6 separate regions of the Homo sapiens genome follow, and regions 1, 3, 4, 5 and 6 are each reported to be linked to region 2. The links are microRNA targets in miRTarBase. Many come from high-throughput screens and were not tested one by one. Region 2 holds a microRNA gene; each other region holds the end of a gene's coding sequence.

Region 1 (3,153 bases), not on the chromosome of region 2:
TAGGGGATTAAAATGTTGAAAAAAAATACCCTTATGTTTTTTCACAGACATTTATTATGTTAAATGTCTTTCTCCTTAGGTTTACTCCTGATGGGAAGTACTTGATTGTGGCCCAGCTGAATCTTAGCAGGCTCTCAGTCGTAGCAGCACCCCCAGTGGGAAGCATTGGGGAGTGTTCTGTGATCAGCACAATCCAACTAGCAGATCAAGTTTTGCCACATCTCCTAGAAGTCGACAGAAAGACTGGAGCAGTCTATGTAGCAGAAATTGGAGCAAAACAAGTACAAAAATATGTCCCTTTGAATAGCTATGTTCCTTCATTTGGTTCATAATGTTTCTTTCCTGGGAATATTTCAAGTGGCAGTTCAGATTCTCAATTCACTAAGTGCTTAAAAATGATGTTCAAGCACAAGAATTTATTTTTCTAGTATAAAAGATCTAGTATCAGAAAGATTTGTTTTTGTATCATTAAGAATCTTATATTTTGTTGCCCTCTTGGGACTTAGTTTTATTTGTAAGTGCATAAGGATATTTTAATGAAAGGAAAGTAACTAAAAAATGGGGTTGGGAAGAGGGACTAAGGTGGTAACCTCATTATTTGCCCTGGTAGACTGATTCTCCCTGGGTAAAAAAAATGGGAATAAAAATGAGCTTGCATGATAATTTATTAAATTTCATGTGAAGAACTCCAGACCTCCAGATTGTGCAACTAACATAAAATGAGCTGCTTGAGAGATTGTAAATAAGATGAACTATTGATTAATTTGAGTACCCACAGAGTGCTGTGTCTTGACGACTTAAAAATGAAAAAGCAGGATTGCCTTTTGAGTAGCTTGCAGTCTAGTGGGGAGACAAGCAGGCAAACAGTCACAACACAGCAAAAGCGACCTTGGAGCATAGTGGGACTTTTGGAGTAGGAGTGCTGCATTTGACTGAGGGAATCATGGATACTTCGCAGGAGAAGTGAATTTGAGCTCAGACTTGAAAACTGAGGAGGAGCTTACCAAGGGACAAGGAGGAGAAAACAATAATTTCCAAGTAAAGAAGGTATAAAAAGTTAGAAGTGTACTGTAAACTTTGATAGGCTTTTAGGCCTTTTTTAAAGCCCAACTTGGCTTCTGTCCATTACCTATAAGATATTTAATGTCAGTCAGCCTTTAAATGTAGGAATAAAATGGCTGGCATCTAAGCACTTTAGTAAAAGAGGTTTTTACAAATAACTAAGGATTGTAGAGCTTCCTTCTCTTTTTTTTTCTTTTTCTTTCTTTTGTTTTACATGAACTCAACTTATTCCTAACATTTGTCTACCTCAAAGAAATTTCAAGATTATTTAGATAACATGGATATGTGCCAAATCCTTTGAGCTGTTAAGATGATAATTTCCTGCTTTCCTCCTACATCTTCTCCTCCCACTCCCTCCTTTGGTGTGAATATTGGCTTCCCAATTAAGACCTTTTTTTTTTTTTTTCCAGTTTGTTTTAGCTTATTATAGGTTTTGGAGGAACTTTGCCATTTTGTAATCTTTCAAATCATTCTTCACCCTTCCTCACATCAGCTTCCTGCTTTTCCCAGTGTTTTACTGTAAATTGTGTAGCATATGACAAATCTTGAGCTGACTTTCCTCTTCACCTGTTATGGCTGGAGTATTTTCCAGACCTGAAGGGACTCACACTTGTTTTGATACTTGGATCACATCTCCGTGAGGTTAGGAAGGTAAATCTACCAACAGGAAGCCCTGTACTCTGTATTCCAAGGCCATTGGTAAATGTGTTGGTGCCACTGATCGGACTGTATGACCTTAAACAAGTCACCTTAGTTTTCAGTGAAATGGGAATATCATTGTCTCCTCTTTCATGAATGCTGTGAGAATCAGATGTGCAACAGGTACAGACTTGCCCTTTGAAATCTATACCTCTGGATACATTAGAGGCATTTTATTAACAAAGGCCCTTCTAAATGTGCTATTTATTTGACAATAACTATCAGATTTGCCTTAATTTTGTGTTTATAGCATTTATCAAAACGTATCCTCATAGACTTTATGCAGATTAATATGGTCAATTGATTTGGATAAAAGAAAGTAATTTCAGGGTTTGTTTTTAAGCCAGGACAAGAAGTGCAAATGCCTCTTTGAAGCAATTTAGGCTAAACTGATTTTGAAATTTCAAAATGTTTTATTTTACTTTGTTTTATTAAGCCAGGACAAGAAGTGCAAATGCCTCTTTGAAGCAATTCAGGCTAGGTAAACCGATTTTGCCATTTCAAAACGTTTTATTTTACTTTGTTTTATATCAGAGTCTTATAAAACCTGCTGCAAATATTTCTGAATGTCTTTGTAAAAGTGTTTGTTAGTGTACCTGTGATTATAGTACTTCACTTTTTTCCTTTGGATTAATTGGTTAAATGAATGAGAAATGTGTTATGTTTTTTACTAAAAAGTATAAATTAAAATTTTGGAAAGAAAAGGCAATATTATCTGGCTCCCCAATTAAAGTTTGATTTTATTGTCACAAAAGCAGTCTATAACTTTTTATTCCTTTAAAGAATTTCAGCAATTATGAAATCACAAGTTGATGCTGAAAGAATATCCCACTTTTCACACATATAGCGTGTAAGCTGATGTGCATAAATATGACTAGAAGTTGCTTAGAACATTTAAAGAATGTAGCTTGTTTTGAGGTGGTGGGAGGGTACAACTGACAGTAATAACTAGCTAATTGTCTACATTTCTGCATTAAAAGTGGAACATCTTTATACTTCTACTTTTTAGGTCTATTCTTGGAGTGGGGAGGGGAGAAAGTGTTCTAAATTAGAAAACCAAAGGCTATAGATTTAGCTCTATCTTTCCCTACCTGTACCATCAGATTGGGTCTTTCAAGTGGAATATTTATCGATCAGAGAAAACTTGGATGAAATCTGATGGTGAACAGAGATTTACCACGAATTTTTTTTTTTTTTTTTTTTTTTGAGACAGAGTCTCGCTTGGTCGCCCAGGCTGGAGCGCAGGAGTCTCGCTCGCTCGGTCGACCAGGCTGGAGTGCAGTGGCGCCATCTCGGCTCACTGCAAGCCCCGCCTCCCGGGTTCATGCCATTCTCCTGCCTCAGCCTCCCGAGTAGCTGGGACTACAGGCGCCCGTCACCACACCCGGCTAA
Region 2 (3,153 bases):
GAAGCGATCCTCACCCAGGGAGACCAGGTTTCTGTAGTTTTCTAACATCACGTCCCTATACAGATTCTGCTGAGCAGGGTCCAGATAGCTCCACTCCTCCGGAGAGAATTCTATGGCCACATCCCTGAATATCAACAGTCCCTGGCAAAGAAAAAACACATACGTATCAAGTGGTCATGGGCAGAGTTCTTAATCTGATTCCAGGCACAAAGAGAGACAGAGAGAACTGGTTCTTACTTATAGAAGAGACTGAAATGATCAAATAATTGTAAACACAGAAATATTCTCTAACATATTCTTTAATCCTGAAGAAAGAGGATGGCATAAGCTCCACATAACCAGTGTACATATTCTACTCTTGTGAATAATACAGTATAAAATTAAGGGCATCAACGCAGGCATATACATTTTTTCCTGCTCTATTTACCTCACACAGGATAAACTGTAAATATTTCTCATATGTAGAGGTCATGATTCATCAGAAGGTACCCCTGAAATTTTAATGCGTACACAATAAACTAGAGATCCTCTTAAAATGCAGGTTGTGATTCAGAGGACCTAGGGTGAAGCCTGAGTCTCTGAATTTCTAAGTGAGCCATACAGTGATGCCACTGTGTCTGGGCCAAGGAAAATATTTTTTCAAACATGCAGGAAGTGGCAGAGCCTGTGTTTATTTCAGTTTATCTAACCAATAAACAAACACGAGAGCCTTCATTTTCCAAAGCAAGCTATAAGCGAGGAGAATCTAAAAAGAAAGAAGAGCTTCCTAATTAAATGTGATGGCTTATATGTATCAGTCAGTAAATCTCCCCAAGGTACTAAACAATAATGAAAAAAATATCTCTATCGTGCAAAAATCTGGCAGAGAGCACCTTAACCAAGTAAATAAAATTAAGATCAACTATAATAGGATAAATCAACATCAAAGATGTCAAGGATAAAATGACATCAAGGATCACATGACATCAAGGACAAAGTATCACTGCTCTAATATTATTGACCACAAAAATAGTAAATTACAATCTGAACCTAATCATGTAGAAACATCCTTTTTTTGTTTTGTTTTTTGGAGACAGTCTTGCTCTGTCGCTCAGGCTGGAGTGCAATGGTGCAATCTTGGCTCACTGCAGCCTCTGCTTCCCAGGTTCCAGTGATTCTCCCACCTCAGCCTCCCAAATAGCTGGGATTACAGGCGTGCACCACCATGCCCAGTTAATTTTTGTATTTTTAGTAGAGATGGGGTTTCATCATGTTAGCCAGGCTGGTCTTGAACTCCTGACCTCAAGTGATCTGCCCGCCTCAGCCTCCCAAAGTGCTGGGATTACAGGTGTGAGCCACAGTGCCTGGCCAGAAACATCAGTTTTATGCAAAGTTCAAGCTATAGCTGTTTCCCTGGTTCTTTAATCTGCAATAGGGTATTTCAATAGTGTTTCTTTAGCATCCTAGACAGCAAATGTCTTCTAATTATTCTCTTTTCAGAACTTTAAGTTATTCCAGGCAATGAATGCCATCCTCTTTAAATGTCTCTTTTCTTAATTCTGTTCTGCATAGAGATGATGGAGCATGTGGATGAAATCTAAACGGTACATGATCCCCTTCTTCACTGACATCCCAAGACCCAGCCCCATCCCCACGGATAATCCTGGGGATCCACACTTTCCCATGTTGATATGTCACAGAACATCTGAATACTGCCCATCATACATTAATGGTAAGATTTGGTCATGACATATAAGAAGCCTGGAAGGAGGGAATGGAGAGAAGGTTCTGGTACACAGGAGGAAGGATTTTACAGAGTTCCTTATCAATCATAAGAAAGGAGGGGGGAAGGGGGGAAGGTAGTTGGGAAGAAACACATTAGGCAGGTACATCAGAAGTACAGAAATAAAGGTTTGCAAGTTCTAAACACATAACATCCCAGAAGAAAAGAGGAGACACATCCCCTGAACCCAGACACATTCACCTGAGAACCAGCCATTTCTTCCTCTTCTTCCTTCTTCTCTGGGATTCCTTCTCAGGTGAGATTATCTGGACAAATCACACCTGCATTTGAGAATATGTCTTTAAAGGTGTCAACACAACCCTTTCACCTGCAACCAGCACACCTAGAGGCAGAAGGCCCTGCAGTGCAGAAAAGGGAATACTCCCCTATTCTTTATCACAGGAGAGGAAAAATGAGCTACCACATAAAGACCAAAAATTTCCTGCCTTCAGGTGATCTCCCCTGCCATGAACTCCAGCAATTTCTGGTACAGCAAAGGAAATATGGATCTTGGTGACCTACCCTTATCAAACCGAAGAGCAGGCCCTCTGACCTCCTTTTGGAACCCAAGTCTCGTGACTGTATCTGGGAGCCCTCAAGGTTGACTCTGATCTCACCTTAGAATCGCTGGGGGGCACTTACTTAAAACAACAATTATGCTTCCATCCAGACCACAGACAGGATCTTTGGAGACAGCATGTGTGATGGTAGTTCTCCAAACTGGCTATTTGTTTCTAATTGAAAGCCTGGGCTGAGAACCACATACCTGAGTACTGTCTCTCTGGCTTCAATGTACATATAAATAATTTGGTATTCTAATTTGGTATTCCAGGCCCCATTCTAAGTAATGTGTTTCCGCAGGTGTGAAAGGGGTCTGCAAATGGGCTTCTATAACAAGTCTTCTGATACTGTTCCCCCGGACTCCTCATCAGCAGCACTCAGCTAGAGAAGGCAAATACAGCACAGAGTCCCTTGTACTCAACACCGGTATCACAACAGAAATGCTTTGGCCGGGCGCAGTGGCTCACGCCTGTAATCCCAGCACTTTGGGAGGCCGAGGCGGGTGGATCACCTGAGGTCAGGAGTTCAAGACCAGCCTGACCAACATGGAGAAACCGTGTCTCTACTAAAAATACAAAATTAGCCGGGTGTGGTGGCGCATGCCTGTAATTCCAGCTACTGGGGAAGGCAGAGGCAGGCGAATCGCTTGAACCTGGGAGGCAGAGGTTGCAGTGAGCTGAGATCGCACCATTGCACTCTAGCCGGGGCAGCAAGAGGGAACTTGGTCTCAAAACACAAACAAACAAAAAAAACCCAGCAATGCTTCTGATTGCAAGTGAAGACCACCAATCGCCATCCTGAAAAATGGCATTCTCTGCTGAGCGTTTAAA
Region 3 (3,145 bases), not on the chromosome of region 2:
AGAGAAGACAGGACGATGCAAACTGTTTGTTGTGGCTGCTATTTTGACTTATTTCCTTTTAGGAATTTTTTTTCCTTGTTCAATACAGAAATACTGAAAATGATACCAAGTTTATAAAAACTAACTCGGCCTGGCAAGATGGCTCACACCTGTAATCCCAGCACTTTGGGAGTCTGAGGTGGGCAGATCACTTGAGGTCAGGAGTTTGTGAGCAGCCTACCCAACATGGTGAAACCCTGTCTCTACTAAAAGTACAAAAATTAGCCGGGAGTGATGGGGCACACCTTGTAATCCCAGCTACTTGGGAGGCCGAGGCAGGAGGATCACTTGAGCACGGGAGGTGGAGGTTGTAGTGAGCCAAGAGCATGTCACTACACTCCAGCCTGGGTGTTGGGAGTGAAACCCTGTCTCAAAAAAAACAAAAACCAAAAAACTAACTTCCCTCCTCCCATATTTATATTTGTCTTTGAAAGCCAGCTAAAGGGAAAAAAGGAAAAGGCCAGGGCAAGTCTCATGGGAAGAAACAGAAGAAACCAGAAGTGGACATTCTCAGCCCCGCGGCCATGCTGAACCTCTACTACATCGCCCACAACGTCGCTGACTGCCTGCATCTGCGAGGCTTCCATTGGCCGGGTGCTCCCAAAGGAAAGAAAGGGAGAAGCAAGTGACAGCATTTCACAACACATCTCTGTTACAGACAACAGGACCTGGGGAAGAGAAGTCAGGATAACACAACTGTTGCCAGCAACATAGACTTTACTCCAGACGACTTGAGATGCAAATTAAGTGTGCTTTTCTGTGATGGTGGAAGATCAGGAAATGCACCTTACTTCCTCTGTTATGCCAGATATGGTTAGCCACTTTGGTTTTTTAGGAGCTATAGGATGGGAAAAGCCTGAGTAATTCCTACACAGTGTGCTGAAATTAATAGAACTTTCAGAAATTATTATAATTCTGGGTCAGGATTAAACTTTGCTCTCAGAAGGCAGTTCTAGTTGCATTAATTGTTTTCTTTTGCCAAAGAGCGTTTGTCATTTAGAGAAGACACGGCAAGAAACACTGGGTTTCCTTAGGAACATTCCTCTCTTGGGCACCATTTCCTTTTTTTTTTTTAATGGAAAATAATAAATACTTTGTTTCTATAATTTTCTTCTCAGCAGTCTGACTCTGTTTGATTTGAATTAGCCACAGGCTCCACGGATGCTAAGATGGTCACGAATGCTCTGACCCTGCCAGTCTTGCAAGCAGATGGTGAGAAGTGGCTGACAGTGTGAAATGGCTGGATGCAGGGCAAAGGGGGCAAATCTGCCCATCCCTTTCTTTTTTCTTTTAAGACGGAGTCTCACTCTGTTGCCCAGGCTGGAGTGCAGTGGCGAAATCTCAGTTCACTGCAACCTCTGCCTCCCGGTTTCAAGCGATTCTCCTGCCTCAGGCTCCCAAGTAGCTGGGATTATAGGCGCACGCCACCAGCCCAGGCTAATTTTTTTATTTTTAGTAGAGATGGGGTTTCACCGTGTTGGCCAGGCTGGTCTTAAACTCCTGACCTCAGGTGATCTGCCCGCCTCGGTCTCCCAAAGTGATGGGATTATAGGCGTGAGCCACTGCACCCGCCTCAGTCTCCCAAAGTGCTGGGATTACAGGCATGAGCCACTGCACCTGCCTCAGCCTCCTAAAGTGTTTTATTACAGGTGAAAGCCATCGCACCTGGCCATCCCTCTTTTTTCCATATTTCACCTGACTCTTCTCCCTCCTTCCCTCCACACTCTATTTCGTCCCACCTTCTGCCTACTTTGTTAAAACTTGGCTGGCCCCGAGTTATAGAATTGGTGCCAGGCACTTACTTGCCCTGGGCATTCGGCTGATATTCTAGATCTCCCTAGCCCTGTAAGGAGACGCCTAAGAGGTGAAACTATAGTTCTTTCTCCTCGGCCCAGAGGCCTAAATTCTCCAGATGTGAAAGCCAGCGTTTTGCAAGTGCGGACGCCGTCTTTGACTCCCTGAGCACTCCATCCTTGCCTCCTGCTCTGTCTTCCTGGCTCTTCCTGCCCCTCCTCAGCCCCTGCACCGTTGTCTCCATTCATGGTTCTGAGCCCAAAGCTGACACACTGTAGGCAGCACCTCCGGGGATGTTCTAGTTTGTTGGAATTATAATTATGCTCCAGGTGGCCTTGTGAGGATCGCAAGGATTCATGAGGTTTGCTAAGGGAAGCTGCAACTCAGGACTCAGGATTTCATACACATCAGAGAAAAAAAGGAAGCTCCATGAATCTCTGTGCTAGAGAAGTGGGGTGCCCATGACCCACGTGAGCCTGTTGGGAACAATACTGTTTACCTGCACCATCTGTGCAGTTTCCATAGAAGCCCTTGGCCAGTTGCCAGAGGAGCCCTCACTTGGGTGAATCTGAAGGGAGGTCTCCTCTGCTGTGTTTTCTGGTTTTGGAGACGGGGAGCACCTTCCCACCCTGTTAAGGACTGCTGAACTCACTAACTCCAGTTCAGCAGTTCTCACACTTGAGTGTGCCTCTCGGTCACCTAGAACACTTGGCCAAGTGCAGATTGCTGGGCCCTACCCTCGCAGGAAGGATGGGGCTCAGGGATTTGCGTTTCTGGTACGCTGGCAGGTTATGCTGGTGCTGCCCAGCCACACAGGTAGAGAGCTGCCGCTCCAGTTAATGCTGCCTACCCAGAAGCTAAAAGGCTTAGTGGAATCCGAACCTGTGGGATGTGTAATGTCCTTTCCTGCCTCACCTGGGTTCAGGAGCGTGTATTTGAGTAGCTGGTTATTGGAAGTTTGGGGAGAAGGCAGCTGCAAAGCTTCCTTTTGATCCCTGACTGCCCGCACCTGCAAGGCTTCCATTGGCCGGGTGCTCCCAAGGGAAAGGGAGAAGCAAGTGACAGCATTTCACAACACGTCTCTGTTACAGAGAACAGGGCTTGGGGAAGAAAAGTCAGGATAACACAGCTATTGCCAGCAGCACAGACTTTACTCCAGACGACTTGAAATGCTGCTCATCTGTAGCACAGATACAGGCATTTACAGGCTAACAAGGTCTGAAAGTGGTCATGCTCTTTTCTTTTGAGATGATGAAATGATGAGCCAGGACTGTGAGTGCTGGGATGGGGGAAGCACTGGTCTGATTGGCCG
Region 4 (3,000 bases), not on the chromosome of region 2:
AGCAGCATGCTGGGGGCCGTGGCCGGCCTTGCCCTGGGGCCAATCCTACGGCTGTACAAGCACAACTCGCAGGCACTGCTGCTGCATTCCAGCATACTCACCTGCACACTGCTGCTGCTCTACTCCTTGGCCCCCACCATGGGTGCAGTTGTCCTCTCCTCCACTCTCCTGTCCTTCTCCACTGCCATTGGCAGGACGTGCATCACGGACCTCCAGCTGACTGTGGGCGGGGCCCAGGCCAGCGGCACCCTTATTGGCGTGGGGCAGTCTGTGACTGCAGTGGGCCGCATCATCGCCCCTCTCCTCTCGGGGGTTGCCCAGGAGGTCAGCCCTTGCGGCCCCCCCAGCCTGGGCGCTGTGTTAGCCTTAGTGGCCATTTTCATAATGTCTCTAAACAAGCGACACTCTAGTGGTGATGGGAATAGTAAATTAAAAAGTGAGTAGATGGATTTGGACAACATAAAGCAACAAAATTTGAGATGGTTGAATGAGGGCCGGAGGCCATGATGAAAAGGGCACTTTGGAAAGGGTTGGGGTGGAAGGGAAATATTTCCGGGTGGGTGTGAGCTGTTGGGCTTCCAGGTCAGCTCTTGGCCATGCAGCCATGCCTGCAGGATGATCAGAAGTCACGGCACCTCATGGGAAGGTTAAGACTGGAGCAAAGCTTTTCCAAGGTGAGCATATTCAGCGTTTACCTGGAAGTCTCTTCTTCCCACCTGGGCTAATCAGGTTACAATTTTCAAGGGTAAACAAACTACCAGCTACAGGATAGGGAAGTGGTGGTGGAATAAGAGAACATGATACCTGGAGGAAGGGAAGAAACCACAAGCATTTTCCTACTGAAAAATAGGGTGACATGTCAGTCAAATTCTGATCAACTGGAACTTGAGTTTCCAGTTAAATTCCATACACTAGGAGGGAGTTTTCTATCAAAATCCTGCAGATTGAAGAAGCTGGTTTATTAGAACCAGCCTGTCGCTTTTCAAAGCTGCTTAAAAATAAGATACTGACCTCACCCCTAGAGATGATTCAGTGGGCCTGGGTGGGGCCAAGAAATCCGTGGTGTTTTGTAAGCACTGCTGGCGATTTCTCATGGCAGTAAAGACCACACTGAGACTGCACTGATTTTGATTAAAGTACATAGGCTTGGCTGTTTTTACACAGCTAACTAAATTTGGACTCTTAAAATTGTGTTTGTAATCACAGTGTGTTACACCTTTCCCAGCTCTCAGCAGTTGTACTGCATGATGGAGCAGCGGGCCCCTGGGACCTGTTCCCTGTGCTCCCTGCCTCTGAGAGCCCAGCTTGCTCTGAAGTTGGACTAAACCACTTAGATGCTGGGGTTGCCACAGCCTGCTCCTGGAAGCCTGCATTCCAGTCAGGTTGCATCCTTCTGGTGCTGACAGAACCCAGTGGTGAAGCCAAAGCACAGGAATGCTTTAAAAATGAACAGTTTATGCAGAATAAGGGTCAGGAGTCATGCCAGACCAGAACTTGATGCTACTGTGTCTTGTGTTAAGAATCATTTCCTGGCCAGGCTCGGTGGCTCAGGCCTGTAATCCCAGCACTTTGGGAGGCTGAGGCAGGTGAATCACTTGGTCAGGAGATGGAGACCATTCTGGCTAACATGGTGAAACCCCGTCTCTACTAAAAATACAAAAAAAAAATTAGCCGGGCGTGATGGCGGGCGCCTGCAGTCCCAGCTATTCGGGAGGCTGAGGTAGAATGGCGTGAACCTGGGAGGCGGAGCTTGCGGTGAGCCAAGATTGTGCCACTGCTCTCCAGCCTGGGCGACAGAGTGAGACTCCGTCTCAAAAAAAAAAGAATCATTTCCTTTATTTTTAGTTTCACGCCTGCAAACACAAGCATTCTGTTGATCAACGGAAATATTTTGATGTGCCATTTCTTGTCTAAACAAGTTTCATATACAGCACCGAGGGGGCCACGAGAGGCAGAGGCCCAGACAGAAGGTGAACATAGCCTTGCAGGGAGACATATGCCAGGCAGGATGACCATTGGGATTGCATCAAGTATTAATCAGTTACTTAAGGGCTTCCTGTCAGACAGTTGAAGTTCACATTCCTTTTACTTTTCTTAATTAGTCCACTAGGATGGTATGCCTGTTTTCAACTTAACACATGCATACTTGTAAATATTTTAGTATGCTACAGTAATTTGTCATATCTTTAATATTTATTGTTTGTAAAGCAGTAAACATTTCTGTATTTTAGAAGTCATGGAGTAAAATCAAATATTTATGATAAATAATTGGAAGTATGTTTTAGTTTGAAGATTGTCCTTTTTCCTATCTTGCTGCAAGGAAAAATGGACTTCTGATTAGGTTTTACAATTGTGAACTTTTATGTAAATGTTAAGTGCTTTCGAGGAGACCAAACTATTATTAATATATAAAATGGCCTTGCCCTTAAGGAGCAAATTAAATCTCATGGAGATTAGACTCAAAAGGCAATAAATAATCGAGGGTTTATGCAATGAAATAGAATTTCAGAAGAGTTTGGATCTCAAAGATTGTCCTTCACTCTCAGAAACAGGCAAGTTTCTTAAAAGCCCTTATAGTCGTGTTTTTATTTTAAAAATCGTAGCACTTTATTTTTGAAGTTTAAAAAGCCCATAAACTTAATGAGTCTTTATAATCAGACACATGGAAATATAGAAAACCAAAGACTGATCTTAGAATATAGAGTAGAGAGACATGTTTGTTATTCTCCACTAGTGACTTTAGTATTTTGTTATGTGATGTTTTTTAGGTGCACCTTTTCTCATGACTCCTTTTACTTTATCTAATGTCTTCCTCTTTAAAGTGTGACCCAGAGACCAGTAGCATCAGCATCACCTGAGACCTGTGAACACTGAAGCTCCAGCTCAGACATGTTGGGGACCATTTTAATAAGATACCTAGCTGATTTTTTGCACAGCAAACTTTGAAAACCCCTGGTCTAAGGGGTAGTATTTGTATCACTTATGGAATATAATCTCAGG
Region 5 (3,000 bases), not on the chromosome of region 2:
CAAGCACTTGTGGGTCTGTGGCTCTGCTGGGACAAAAGCCTTCCTCCCTGGGCTGGGGAAGGGAGGACCAGGGCCATGCCTGCTTTCCTCCTGCACAGATGGCACCCTCTGGCGGTCCCCCCCAGCAGCAGCCCCCCGTGGCCCAGCAACCGCAGGCACAGGGGCCGCCGGCACAGGGCAGCGAGGCCCAGCTCATTTCATTCGACTGACCCAGGCCATGCTCACGTCCGGAGTAACACTACATACAGTTCACCTGAAACGCCTCGTCTCTAACTGCCGTCGTCCTGCCTCCCTGTCCTCTACTGCCGGTAGTGTCCCTTCTCTGCGAGTGAGGGGGGGCCTTCACCCCAAGCCCACCTCCCTTGTCCTCAGCCTACTGCAGTCCCTGAGTTAGTCTCTGCTTTCTTTCCCCAGGGCTGGGCCATGGGGAGGGAAGGACTTTCTCCCAGGGGAAGCCCCCAGCCCTGTGGGTCATGGTCTGTGAGAGGTGGCAGGAATGGGGACCCTCACCCCCCAAGCAGCCTGTGCCCTCTGGCCGCACTGTGAGCTGGCTGTGGTGTCTGGGTGTGGCCTGGGGCTCCCTCTGCAGGGGCCTCTCTCGGCAGCCACAGCCAAGGGTGGAGGCTTCAGGTCTCCAGCTTCTCTGCTTCTCAGCTGCCATCTCCAGTGCCCCAGAATGGTACAGCGATAATAAAATGTATTTCAGAAAGCATCAGCGTTTTTTCTTTAATTAATTTTTTTGAGATGGAGTCTCACTCTGTCACCCAGGCTGGAGTGGTGATCTCCGCTCACTGCAAGCTCCGCCTCCTGGGTTCAAGCGATTCTCGGGCCTCAGCCTCCCGAGTAGCTGGACTACAGGTGCACCCCATTACCATGCCTGGCTAGTTTTTGTATTTTTAGTAGCGACGGTGTTTCACCATGTTGGCCAGGCTGGTCGTGAACGCCTAACCTCAGGTGATCCACCTGCCTCGGGCTCCTAAAGTGCTGGGATTACAGGCATGAGCCACCGCGCCCGACCTGCATCAACGTTTGCTCAGGGGGCAGGTGGTCAGGCTGATGGCCCAGCTGCAGGCAGGGTCATTTCCAGCCTGCCCCTCCCTGAGGCTGCGTGCCAGGGTTCATGTGTGCCCTCCGCGGCTCTGCACTGACCCCGCCGGTAGCTGGGGAGGAGTTTGGGCTTGGCGCCTCCTTCGTGTAGTGGCTGAAGCTTCCCGGGTGCTCCTCATTCCTGGGAAGGGAGTCGGGTGATGGGAACGGTGGGAGCTCAGCGCTCCGAGTCTGCGGCCGGGGGCCAGCGGGGCTGAAACGCGCCTCCTGAGTGTTGAAAGCGGCAGGCGCCGGCCTTTGCACCCAGAGGCCAGGGCGTCTCACTCACCTTCACATCCAGGCCTCTTAGGGGAGCGCGGCTTTGGCTTTTCCAGGAAGGAATGGACTCCAACGGACAGGGAAAGAAGAAGTGTGGAGAGACGGGCAGGATAAGCAGGCACTGGGCCCAAGCCGCCCTTGGAGGCTCTGCCTGTTCTGATCTGAAGGCGGAGGCTCAGCCGTGCTCTCCCAGGAAGCCACCTGGGCGTTTGGGGCTTTAGCTAGGAAAGAGGATGTCGCCTGCGGCTGCGAAGGCGCCAAAGCCCAGACCTCGCGCCTCCGCCCGCGACGGCGGCACTGGGGGCCCGGAGCGGGCGGGAGACGTGGATTACTGCGGGCTTCGGGGCCCTAGCCTCGACCGCGACGTTCGCTCGCATCGCGTACGGACAGAAACCCGTGAGCGCTGAAGAAAGAACACCTGAATCCGGAGCCCCAGCCCCCGTCGCTCGTTTGCGCGACCCCAAAACCTGGCGGGACGAGGGTCGCCCGATGTCTAGCTGCCGCCACAGACGACGCTTTTGCGTCTGCGCAGCGCGCCGCCTTGTGGGTAATCTCAGGGTGAGACGAGGCTAGCGCGAGGTACGGCTAGAGCGTCATTTCCGGCTCGAATGCCCGGCAGCCGTGGCGGCTAGAGCGTTCCTCCCCAGCTCGAATGCCCGGCGGCCGAGGCGGCTAGAGCGTCGCCTCCTCCCGGGGAACCGCGTGTGACCTTCCAGCCCGCGGACCGATGCTGCCGGCGGCCGCTCGCCCCCTGTGGGGGCCTTGCCTTGGGCTTCGGGCCGCTGCGTTCCGCCTTGCCAGGTACGCGGGATCCTGGGGCGGTCCGGGCCGGCAGGCGGGTTAGGGGGCAGCCGGGCACTGAGGGGTCGATCCGGGCGAGGAGGGCGGCGGGGCCGGCCTCCCTGCAGCGGCCAGGCCGGGCTTGGGGGTCCCATCGGGGGCGCGGGGAGGAGGCCTCCCGGTGCGCACGCCCCTTCCCTCCTGGGCCGTGGAAAGCGCCGGGGTCGGCCCCAGATGACCTTGGACGATTCCCTGCTCCTCCCTTGGCCTCAGCCTTTTCCGCAGCAAAGGCCCATCCGTGGGTGCGGCGTTTTGCGGCCAGGGGCCCCCATGTTTTGGGAGGCTTTGCGCAGGAAGATGCACCTAAGTAATAGTTTCGCCACCGCTGGGTTGATGTAGTTCATTCAAACCAGAAACTTGAGGTTTGAGTGGTATGGCTGCAAATAAACACGTGGCTTTCTAAGGCTCTTTGAAGAATTTAAAGTAACTTGCAAATCTTATCAATACGGACCCCTTGAGGTCTGAGAACCCTGGACTGGGACCAAGGAGCTAGGTAATTTCCGGCCCTAGTGATTACCAGCCTGAGCTTATGGCACCCACCAGTCCCCCAGTTGTCCTGCCCCTCTGGTTTCTGCAGCCCCTTCCATTCCAGGACTGACAAGTCTGTTTTAATTGGGGGTGGGGGCTAGGCGACAGGTGCCATGTGTCTGTGCCGTGCGACATATGAGGAGCAGCGGCCATCAGAGGTGTGAGGCCCTCGCTGGTGCACCCCTGGATAACGCCCCCAAGGAGTACCCCCCCAAGATACAGCAGCTGGTCCAGGACATCGCCAGCCTCACTCTCTTGGAAATCTCA
Region 6 (3,153 bases), not on the chromosome of region 2:
CCTCAGAATCAACTCTTCTTATCCGCACTGGCTCCCACTGCTTGGACATGGCACCTGAGAGGCCCTCAGACTCCCCCAGCCTCCGCCTAGGGCGCCAGGTAAGAGAAAAAAGGCTCTGAATCATTTGCATTCTCATTTGAATAATCACTTGCATGTTCCCTCCTTCTGCTGGTGCTGAAATCTGACTTTCAAATTCTTCCCACCTCCCCACAGAACATCTTCCAGCAGCTACAGACCTGGCTCAAGCTGGCAAAGGAGAGCCAGATTAAGGGTGAAGTCTGAATCTCATACCCTTTCCACTCCCTGCATGGTCACCTCAGTCCTGGACATACTTGTTCACTGAACAAAAGAAAGCAGCTTGTTTTGAAAGAAGAAACTCCCAGGAATTGGAATTCAGCACCTGTTCCGCACGTAATTGGCATGTGTCTGCAAACATCCTTATTCCCAACTTAAAGTGCTTTATTGCAGAGAGTTATGGAAATATAAGTGGATGATTATTCTCATTGTAAATATTGGTATTTTGAATGTTAAATGTCAAACAAATGTGACTTATGCTGGTGCCCTCGCCCTGCTGATCAGATTCTGGTTCAAATTCTGCCACTCCAGCTCCTGGGTTAGGGGCTTTGCTGTAAGTTTCTTTTTCTGGACTTTAGATCCTGAACCTGTCCTTGCTTCTCAGTTTCTCTCACTGTACCCCTTTCCCTCAGTCTCTTCCTCTCTCTTTCCCCTGTCACTATTTGTCTTTCTAATCTCCTTCTGTTTCTCTGAATATCTTCATTTCTATCTCTGTGTTTCTGTCTATTTCTCTGTTTATCTTTCTGTCCTTCAATCTGTGTTTTTGTTTCTGGCTCTCCGTCAGTGTCTTTTTCTCTCCTCTCTCTCTTGCTCTGCCATGGCTATTTCCACTGCTCTATTTCTGACTCTCATTTTTGGTCTCTGTGTGTCTCCTAGTCACTTTCTTTCTCACTCTGTCTCTGTCTCTATTTCTGTCTCTCCTCTGCTGTGTCCTCAATCTCTCTGTCTCCCTGAGGCTCTATTTCTGTCTCTCCTCTGCTGTGTCCTCAATCTCTCTGTCTCCCTGAGGCTCTATTTCTGTCTCTGATGCTCTTCTTCTGTGTCTCTATTTCTCTTCCTGTCACTTAATCTTTTCCTTCTCTATCTCTCTTATTTAGTCTTCCTTCCACACCCTTCACTCACCATCTTTTCCCACAATCAAATATCACTCCCTGGTACTTCCAGCTTCCAACTCTAGGGATTCATGATTCTGGTGGAGATTCCTTCTTCCAGGGCCTGGGAGGATAGGGCTAATCCCAAGGGTGCCTGCTTAGGCTATGTTAGCTGTGACAGGAACCTGCCATAGATTTGCACTGTTCTTTCCTAAAGATCAATTATTTTCAGCAATAAATACTTCTCAGCTTTTTGTATGTCTTTGTATGCACAGAGATGGTAGTTTTAGAGTTTTATCCAGTTTCATATTTCCTTGTGGGTAAGAGGCAACCTCCTCATGCTGTCATACCAAAGTCAATCTCCACTACACTTTAGTTCTGCCTGTTCTTGATCTTTATATAAATGGAAACTTGCAGTATATATTATATGTTTTTGTGTCTAGAAGTTTGAAATCAAGGTGTCAGCAGAGCCATTCTCTTTCTCACAGCTCTAGGGGAGAATCCTTCCTTGCCTTCTAATCCTTCCTTGACCAAAAATGAGAGTCAAAAATAGAGCAGTGGAAATAGCCAGGGCAGAGCAAGAGAGAGAGGAGAGACAAAGACACTGACGGAGAGCCAGAAACGAAAACACAGATTGAAGGACAGAAAGATAAATAGAGAAACAGACAAAAACACAGAGATAGAAATGAAGATATTCAGAGAAACAGAAGGAGATTAGAAAGACAAATAGAAAATGCTTCTGTGCTTCTTCTGGCTTCTGGTGTTTGCCAGCATTCCTGTGTTCCTTGGCCTGTAGATGCATTACTCCAGTCACATGGCCATTTTCCCTGTGTGCCTTCACATCACCTTCCTTCTGCATGTGCCTATCCATGTGTCCAAATTTCCCCTTTTATGAGGATACCAGTTATCTTGGGCTAGGCCCAGCCTGTTGATCTGATTTTAAGTTGGTTACCTCTGTGAATACCCTGATTCCAAATATGATCACAGATTGAGGTACTGGGGATAAGGAGTTCAATATATCTTTTTTGGGGAGAAGATGGGACACAGTTCAACCCATACCACCACCAACATGATAACAAGTGAAGGCTATTTATTCAGCACTTGCTATACCAAGAGAATCCACCATCATCACTTGTGTTTGGCAGAGACTCACAACAGGCAGAGGAGTGGGAAAGCGCTATAGTGGAAAAAAGAGAAGGTTCTAGGTATGCCTTAACTGGAAGCTGTGGCATGGGGAAGCTGTGGGCAGGCTAACTAGAAGAGGGGCATCATATGTGATTGGTTGGGAGTACATGTATGGCTTTCCCTCATTGGTCCTTAGTTGAAAGCAAGAACAAAAATTAAGGAATTGTGAGTTATTATATTTAGTAAGTGCTGGCCATTTGGAGCCAATCGGTACAGGGGTATTATTGTTTGTCTTCCTCTACTGTTTGCTACAGATAGCAGCTTGACTTCCTGGACTGGTTACTGTAATAGTAGGTTGGCTTTCTGGGCTGGTTACTGCAGGTTGTAGGTCAGAAGTCTACTTTTACTTTTAGTTTGGCCATTATCCATTTGTATATTCAATTCTCAACCTTTGTCTGTTGGATCTCATGTGGCTTGGGGATTGCTCTCTAAGTTCAGGGAGTTTACAAGTCTACTGTGCATTCAGCCAGAGACAGTAACCTTTCTGGTCTTTTCTGAGCAAGCCCACCCTTATGCATGTATTCAGTCTTCCAGATCGCCAGAGATGAGTGGGTGGTCTCGATGACTGTGCATATGCACAAGGGTAGGGTGCCCTTCAGCCATCCCTAGATGTCATTTTTAAATTTCTGGTAGATTTCTAAATTAAATATATTAACTTGCATGCTTCTGTTAGTATCCTTGAGCTGTCAGCTTTCCCTGATTACTCTTCACTGTGACCTCTATTTTCAGCATTGCCCTTAGGCCAGATTTTTCCATGTTCTACTCCAAATAAAGTCAACCCCTTCACGCAGGGGCCCCAAGC

Evidence for each region. Region 2 holds the annotated microRNA hsa-miR-3916 (AAGAGGAAGAAAUGGCUGGUUCUCAG, at 1,964-1,989, opposite strand). A microRNA usually pairs through its seed, bases 2 to 8, with sites in the 3' UTR of a target mRNA and lowers its output. Matches are read on the target gene's strand: a 7mer-m8 pairs with bases 2 to 8, a 7mer-A1 pairs with bases 2 to 7 and ends in A, and an 8mer does both.
Region 1: miRTarBase lists NHLRC3 as a target of hsa-miR-3916. Seed matches in the 3' UTR shown: 7mer-m8 at 1,619-1,625.
Region 3: miRTarBase lists SMKR1 as a target of hsa-miR-3916. Seed matches in the 3' UTR shown: 7mer-m8 at 831-837 and 7mer-m8 at 1,079-1,085.
Region 4: miRTarBase lists SLC67A2 as a target of hsa-miR-3916. Seed matches in the 3' UTR shown: 7mer-m8 at 2,810-2,816.
Region 5: the mRNA of HGS is a reported target of hsa-miR-3916. Seed matches in the 3' UTR shown: 7mer-A1 at 296-302.
Region 6: miRTarBase lists PRSS16 as a target of hsa-miR-3916. Seed matches in the 3' UTR shown: 7mer-m8 at 712-718.

Annotation. Positions count from the first base shown.
Region 1 is chr13:39,047,595-39,050,747 of GRCh38, forward strand. NHLRC3 (NHL repeat containing 3) reads left to right here. Exons shown (of 7, transcript NM_001012754.4): 7 at 80-2,515. The coding sequence ends at 332. Among named protein-coding and RNA genes, the nearest start is that of NHLRC3, 11 kb to the left of the region's middle.
Region 2 is chr1:247,200,053-247,203,205 of GRCh38, forward strand. MIR3916 (microRNA 3916) reads right to left here and starts at 2,008; the gene lies at 1,915-2,008.
Region 3 is chr7:129,511,774-129,514,918 of GRCh38, forward strand. It overlaps SMKR1 (small lysine rich protein 1), which reads left to right. Exons shown (of 2, transcript NM_001195243.2): 2 at 474-1,145. The coding sequence ends at 668. Among named protein-coding and RNA genes, the nearest start is that of SMKR1, 11 kb to the left of the region's middle.
Region 4 is chr2:102,715,864-102,718,863 of GRCh38, reverse strand. It overlaps SLC67A2 (solute carrier family 67 member 2), which reads left to right. Exons shown (of 6, transcript NM_032718.5): 6 at 1-3,000. The coding sequence ends at 444. Among named protein-coding and RNA genes, the nearest start is that of SLC67A2, 20 kb to the left of the region's middle.
Region 5 is chr17:81,701,410-81,704,409 of GRCh38, forward strand. HGS (hepatocyte growth factor-regulated tyrosine kinase substrate) reads left to right here. Exons shown (of 22, transcript NM_004712.5): 22 at 99-712. The coding sequence ends at 209. It overlaps MRPL12 (mitochondrial ribosomal protein L12), which reads left to right and starts at 1,958. Exons shown (of 5, transcript NM_002949.4): 1 at 1,958-2,166; 2 at 2,835-3,000. The coding sequence starts at 2,093. RefSeq lists enhancers at 1-233, 838-1,441, 1,386-1,455, 1,442-2,045 and a silencer at 1,946-2,325.
Region 6 is chr6:27,255,034-27,258,186 of GRCh38, forward strand. PRSS16 (serine protease 16) reads left to right here. Exons shown (of 12, transcript NM_005865.4): 11 at 1-98; 12 at 214-1,587. The coding sequence ends at 282. Among named protein-coding and RNA genes, the nearest start is that of PRSS16, 8.9 kb to the left of the region's middle.